2 linked regions of the Homo sapiens genome follow. Changing the gene in region 2 together with the main gene of any one other region gives a genetic interaction. Each region holds a gene or a part of one and is shown on either strand. Other genes may lie near its edges.

The links.
Region 1: changes in PAXBP1 (region 2) and METAP2 together harm fitness more than expected from each alone (negative genetic interaction), as found in Homo sapiens cells (one large-scale study listed by BioGRID).

Annotation. Positions count from the first base shown.
Region 1 is NC_000012.12:95,480,629-95,484,198, reverse strand, and holds part of METAP2 (methionine aminopeptidase 2), read right to left. Parts: intron 985-3,570; coding exon 919-984; intron 1-918. UniProt on the Homo sapiens protein: Cotranslationally removes the N-terminal methionine from nascent proteins. The N-terminal methionine is often cleaved when the second residue in the primary sequence is small and uncharged (Met-Ala-, Cys, Gly, Pro, Ser, Thr, or Val).
Region 2 is NC_000021.9:32,747,709-32,751,278, forward strand, and holds part of PAXBP1 (PAX3- and PAX7-binding protein 1), read right to left. Parts: exon of another isoform or gene 3,546-3,570; intron 3,511-3,545; coding exon 3,411-3,510; intron 3,325-3,410; coding exon 3,209-3,324; intron 991-3,208; coding exon 791-990; intron 541-790; coding exon of another isoform or gene 505-540; exon of another isoform or gene 1-504. UniProt on the Homo sapiens protein: Adapter protein linking the transcription factors PAX3 and PAX7 to the histone methylation machinery and involved in myogenesis.

The DNA.
Region 1 (3,570 bases), on a different chromosome or scaffold from region 2:
AATTCTGATTCATAAAATTTTAGCCTGAAAAATTTTAAAGGAAGGCATAACCAGACATTCAGTGGTCTACAACAGCCCAAATGGCATCCAAGATTAAAACTTACATGTTGTGATTCTCAACCCAACCTTTCTTCCTCAACACTACGAAATCTCCCTTCAGCCTCCTTAATATATTTTCGGGCACCTGATGATGTTTGGTTGTGGCACTTACAGAAACTCAAAACAAGCAGGATATTTTATACAAATCTGATCGTACAATATAAAAGTTATTATTAATAATAAAGTCTCACCATATGCACACATCTTAAATAACGGGATTCCTCATTAAATACTCATCAAGAATCTCATAATTTAAAAGCTGGAAGGTAAATTACAAACAACGCTTACCCTACCACCACCATGGCACCACTTCGGCCATTCTTGACAGAATTATTCTTTAAATTATGCAAGTTTTAAATCATAAAATTTTTAGAAACTCATCCCTAACTTGCAGTAAAATGCAACCAATTCATATCGACATCCCTTAGCTAACAGCTAAAGAAAATAAAGGATTGTTAAACCAAAGTTATTAAACTAATAAATAATTATTAGTTTCACTAAATTCTGCTTCTATTAAGCCTAAGTTTATTTCCCTAACATATATCAGGACCTTAAGCAACTTCAAACCTACTCTTCAAACCTGTCAGTGAATAACCACTTCTTTTTTTTTTTTTTTTTTTTTTTGAGACAGAGTCTCACTCTGTTGCCCAGGCTGCAGTGCAGTGGCACAATCTCAGCTTACTGCAATCTCCGTCTCTTGGGTTCCAGCAATTCTCCTGCCTCAGCCTCCGGAGTAGCTGGGATCACAGGTGTGAGCCACCACACCCGACAGAATAAACACTTCTAATATATCAATTAACATTAACTTAAGACACTAACGTCCTCTCTTCTTCTTCTTCTTTTTCTTCTTCTTTCCAGTTGCTCCATCTCCATCGCCATCTCCATCTAAGAAAAGACATTTCAAGTACATGTTCATTTAAACCTCATAAGCAGAGGGACAAAGCAAGTACAAGGAGACAAGTATTTGCTCTATTCAATAAATGAACAAACGTTAGTTTATTTTATCTTGTTTACATTTATTCTTTCACTGAAATAAGAAATAGGAAGCAGCTACCAGGTGTGGTGGCACATGCCTATAGTCCCAGCTACTAGGGAAGCTGAGGTGGGAGGATCACTTGAGCCAAGGAGTTGGAATCCAGCTTGGGCAACATAGTGAGACTCCAACACTAAAAAATTTAGAAACAGGAAGCAGCAGTTTAGCAAAGTGGGAGGTAACGTGATCTAGGACTTACGTGGGTTGAACCATATGAAAATGCCAATACTTGACCATTTTTGGTCAAAATTGCCACTTCTTTTCTTTCTTTTTTTGAAACAGGGTCTAGCTCTGTTGCCCAGGCTGGAGTGCAATGGCGCAATCTCAGCTCACTGCAACCTCCGCCTCCCAGGTTTGAGTGATTCTCATGTCTCAGCCTCCACCTCCCAAGTATCTGGGATTACAGGTGCATGCCACCATGCCCATCTAATTTTTTTTTTTTTTTTTTTTAGTAGAGATGGAGTTTCGCCATGTTGACCAGGCTGGTCTCGAACTCCTGACATCAAGTGATTTGCCAGCCTTGGCCTCCCAAGTCCTGGGATTATAGGCGTGAGCCACTGTACCCAGCCTCAAAATCACCATTTCTTATGTTCAATCTTATGAAATTATCAAAAACCTAGCAGGCAGAAGAGAACAGTAGAAGTACAAATATTAGGCTAGGTAAAGTGGTTCACACCTGTAATCCTAGCACTTTGGGAGGCTGAGGCAGGTGGATCACTTGAGCCCAGGAGTTTGAGACCAGTCTGGAGGACATGGTGAAACCCTGTCTCTACTAAAAGTACAAAAAATTATCCAGGTGTGGTGGTATGCGCCCATAGTCCCAGTTACTTGGAAAGCTGAGATGTGGGAGGATCACCTGAGCCAGGGAAGTCAAGGCTGCAGTGAGCTGAGATCGAGCCACAGCACGTCAGCCTGGGTGACGGGAGGGAGATCTTGTATCCTAACAACAACAAACCCAAAACACAAATATTGCTGACTTATTCATTATGGATTTTTAGATTCAAAAGCCTAACAAAAGGCACACGAAAAATTATAATCTAATTCACATATCGTGCACTGTAACGTTAACAGTAACCTTCTTCACCCCATTAAATGTTTGTTGGGCTCTTAAGTGCCAGGCAATAGGGACAGAAAAATAAGATAGTTTCTGTTCTGGAGAAACAATAGTTTTTTCCAGACTAAAACTGGTTATGAATCTTGAAGTATTTGTTTTAGGTTGTGACTAGTGTATGTAGCACTATACCTAGTGTATGTAGCACAACCTAAAACAAATACTTGAAGATACATCACCAATTTTAAACATATACTAAAAATCTTTCCATCTGGGTGACCTTGGGCAAGTTATTTAGCCTCCCTCTACCCTGGTTTCTTCATCTTTAAAATGGAACAAAAAGGTCCTTCTTTGATACTTTCATCCTTTTGAGGCTAATTACCTTATTCAATGTCCAATGTCTGTATTCAGTACAGAAAAACAGCCACCATTTATAGAACTTTGTGCCAGGATGGCAGCAGAGCCAGGATCTGAGTATTAATCTATATATGTTTATAGTTCCAACCATTATACCATGTTGAAATTTGTGCTTTTACATGTCTTTTCTTCACAGTATCCCAGCATATTCTTCATAGGCAGAGATGGTTGGTTTTTTTGGTTTTTCTGTGACAGGGTCTCACTCTGTTGCCCAAGCTGGAGTGCAGTGGCAGGATCACAGCTCACTGCAGCCTCAATCTCCCAGACTCAGGAAATCCTCCCACCTCAGCTTCCTGAATAGCTGAGACTACAGGCACGCACCACTATACCTGGCTAATGTTTTTTAATCTTTTGCAGAGACAAGGTCTAAGTTGCCCAGACTGGTCTCGAATCGCATCTCAGCCTCCCAAAGTGCTGGGATTATAGGCATGAGCCACCAGGCCTGGCCAGCAGAGGCTGCTTATGTTTATTTGTGTTACTACTATGCCCAAATCAGTTGATATCTGTTGAATGACAACTGGAAATCATATTTTAAAAAAAAGAGTCTCAAGCTTTTAAGCTCTGCCTTGCACTATCTAGAAACATTAATTCTAAATGAACCATAGACCTAAACATAACAGCTAAAAATATATAAAACTTCTTGAAGAGAACACAGAACATCTTTGTGACCTTAGAGACAGCAATGACTTAACTTTTTAGACAGGACACAAAAAGCACTACCCATAAATTTAAAAAACAGATAGATTGGACTTTATCAAAATTAAAACTGTCCTATAAGCAATACCATTAACCAGGTGAATAGCCATCCCATAGAAATATCTGTAAAACATATTATCTGATAAAGAACTTGCAACCAGAATATACAATGAACTATTACAATTCAATAGGATGACAAATAACCCAATAAAACATGGACAAAAAATGTGAACAAACACTTTACCAAAGATAAAGGAAAAAGCAAATAAAAACA
Region 2 (3,570 bases):
CACCACTAGACCTCCAGAGTCAATTCTAGCCCCCTCCCTTATATGACAGGCCAATAGGTCCTCTTGATTCCACCTCCTTATCTTTTTTTTTTTTTCTTGTGGCAGGTCTTGTTCTATCACCCAGGCTGCAGTGCAGTGGCACAATCATAGCTCATTACAGCCTTGATCTCCCGGGCTCAAGCAATCCTGCCTCAGCCCCCGAAGTAGCTAGGAATATGAGCACATGCCACCACAGCTAATTTTTTTTTTTTTTTTTTAAGTAGAGACAAGGTCTTGCTATGTTGCCCAGGCTGGTCTTGAACTCCTGAGCTCAAACAATCCTCCCGCCTTGGCCTCCCAAACTGTTGGGATTACAAGCATGAGCCACCATGCCTGGCCTATCAATTTTTCTCACCATGACAACTGACTTGGGTCATGTCCTCATTTCACACCTGCCTCATTGTGCTTTCCCATCTGGTTCTGAGTTCCTCTAGGATCAAAGGACCAAGTTCTTACTATTCATGTTCATATCCCAGTGTTACTGCATATAATTTCAGCTGGCTGAAAAAAGGATTATATGTAAACTGAAAAAACAACAACAACAACAAAAAAAACACATAGCTCTGCTGGGAAGACATGAAACTTAAAAGGAAAGATCATAAGATTATAACCAGATACAATCTATCAATTATAGCCTATGCCCTATCACCCCTGCAAAATATTTTGCTTAAGCTTACATCTCTAGCTTTGAGATTAAAATTACCCAGATATCAAATTATAACACTTTCTAATAGTGACAGAAGCCACTCACCTCAAGAGGAGTCCAAGTGAGGAGCTGAAGTCGTATGAGGGGGTTGAATAATTTTGGCAAACAAAGGCCAATGTAAGCATCTTTGTAGGATGTGTAGTATTTTGAACGCCATGCTTCAAACTGTGATTTAATACAGTCAATTGAATAGAAACTTTCAAGGACATCTTCAAAAACTTTGCCGGATTCTTTTGAAATTCGATCTAAAAACAACAAAACCCCACAGAGAACCATACATTAGTATGAAGTAGGAAAAAAACAGTCCAATATTTTCAGTGTTTTCTTTGTAGCTTCAGTATCAGAAGATACGCTCATTAACAAAGGGCCAATTGTTAGTCACAATTTAGAAGAAAAAAATAAATTGAAGTTTCAATTTGTCTATTATGTAAACTAAAGTGCAGCCAGTCCTTGTTTTGCAGTTCCAGTATATACAATTTTTCTACCACAGTTTGGCTAAATAAAACCTGTTCCCAAACAAGATGGTTCAAATTTCAGTTACTACGGTGTATTAGCCATAAGTAATTGTGCCGCTAGCTTTTTAGTTCACAGATCACTGCACAGATTAACAGCTGTGCATCATAATCAGTCACTAATCACATTGCTTCATTCAAACTCTGTTGGTGATTATAATAACTGACATAGCCAACTATCAGCTGAATGGATGCTAGGAACTTTAAGTGAAAAGTTATTTGCGAATAAGATTTTTTTTTTTTTTTTGAGACAGATTCTCACTCTGTCACCCAGGCTGGAGTGAAGTGGTGCGATCTCAGCTCACTGCAATCTCTGCCTCCCAGGTTCAAGTGATTCTCCTGCCTCAGCCTCCTGAGTAGCTGGGATTACAGGTATGCGCCACCATGCCCAACTAATTTTTGTATTTTTAGTAGAGATGGAGTTTCATCATGTGAGCCAGGCTGGTCTCGAATTCCTGACTTCAAGTGGTCCGCTGCCTCGGCCTCCCAAAGTGCTGGGATTACAGGTGTGAGCCACTGTGCCCAACCAAGAATAAGATACTCTTATGATGTCCCAGATTACTTGGGAAAAGGAAATATTTACAATGGAGAGATAAAGTTCTGAGAACCTTTACTGCAAGATCAATCTTAACATTGCTAATAGTGGGGACAGTCTAACATTTGTCATGTGCTTTTAAGCAGTATGAAACAGCATCCTGTATAAATTATTCTTGGGGAAGAAAAAAAAAAAGTTTAACTTAAATCTAATTAAGCCTTCAGACCTAAATTCCAGTTTACAAGAAATGGATCAAAGAACAAGTTAAACAATGCTATGAGGAAACATACAGACCAGTCTAGAATATAGGACAGTCTATAAGAGAAGTGGCCTGGTCTCTTCAAAAATTTAAAGAACAATAGGGGTGGGTGTGTGAATGTGTACTTAGGGTTACTCATTTATTCCAGATTTAAAAATGTCATAACCAAATGCAGAGCATGAACCTTAGGTGGATCCTGGTTTCAAAAACCACAAAATAACCCATAAAAATAGTTCCTAAAAAGGGTTTTTCCAGGATGCCATTGAGAAAAATTATATATGGACATGATATTAAGAAATCTGTTTTCTTATTGTGCTAAAAAAAGAAATACTTAATCAGAATAGGCATCTAACAAAAAGAAAAAAGATAATAATACTGTGATTATACAGAAAAATATACTCATTTAGAGGAAACACACTCTGAAATTTTGGGGAGTGAAGAGCCATGAGGTCTGTAAGTTACTTTCAAATGGTTCAGCAAACACACACATCTCCTTGTATAAAGAGCCAGGCAAACTTGGTGAAATCATAAGCATTGTTATCTGAGTGATAGGTATGTGGATGATCACTGTGCTAGTCTTTCAAATTTTGTTTAGAAATGTTCACTGTAAAAAAAGTAAGAGAAAGAAGCTTCTCCAACTAAGTTCCAAATGGTGTGCAATTGATATAATTCCAAACAATTATAGCCAATGGTGGGAAATGAAGACTTTTATTTGGGATCCTTCTGAAAATGCCTGGCACATAATAGTACTAACCATTCCTCTAAGGTGAGATTACTTATGACTCCCCAAATCAAGAGTTTCCTTCAGGGCTGAGTGCTCTACTGCCAAGCTTTACCTTTCCAGACCAGACAGGCTGCAATGAGAGCTGCCCTCAAGGACCTGACACATTTCCAGTCACTTAAAATTCTACCATTTGGAACAGTAACAACATTTATTATGCAAATACTAAGTACACCCTATGAGAAGATGTTACCCCTATTTTTGAGAATTCATCATGATATTCACTAATAAAAAGGCATGCAAATTTCTGCAATTAAAAAAGAAGTGTCTGGTTCTAATGCAGAGACCATGAAGATTCAAATCATTTCATGGTAAAAACCATACCCAAGTAGAAACTAAACTGATGATGAGTCTTATTTCCAAATAAATGTCTAACCTTTTTCCAGATTGAAATTAGTAATATCTGTAGAAGTTTCTTCATCATCACTGGAAAGGCCTTCAAGGTGATCTGCCATCTTACCGGTTTGTTCTCTGGCTTGTCTACGACGAGTCCTAAATAATAAACATCAAGTTCCCAAACTAGATAACAGAGACTCCTCCCTTCCCAAACAAGCCAGAGCAAGGGTTTTGAGAATTACCTCCTGGCCTCCCGCTCTGCAATGCGACGTTTTGCATGCTCTTGATACAGTGCCCGATCGCGTCCAAAGGAGTCAAGATTTGGTGCCATCAGAGCTTTGTCTGCAAAACAACAACAGTTAAAATTAAAAGCCATCTTTCAACAATCTTGAGGAAAGAGTT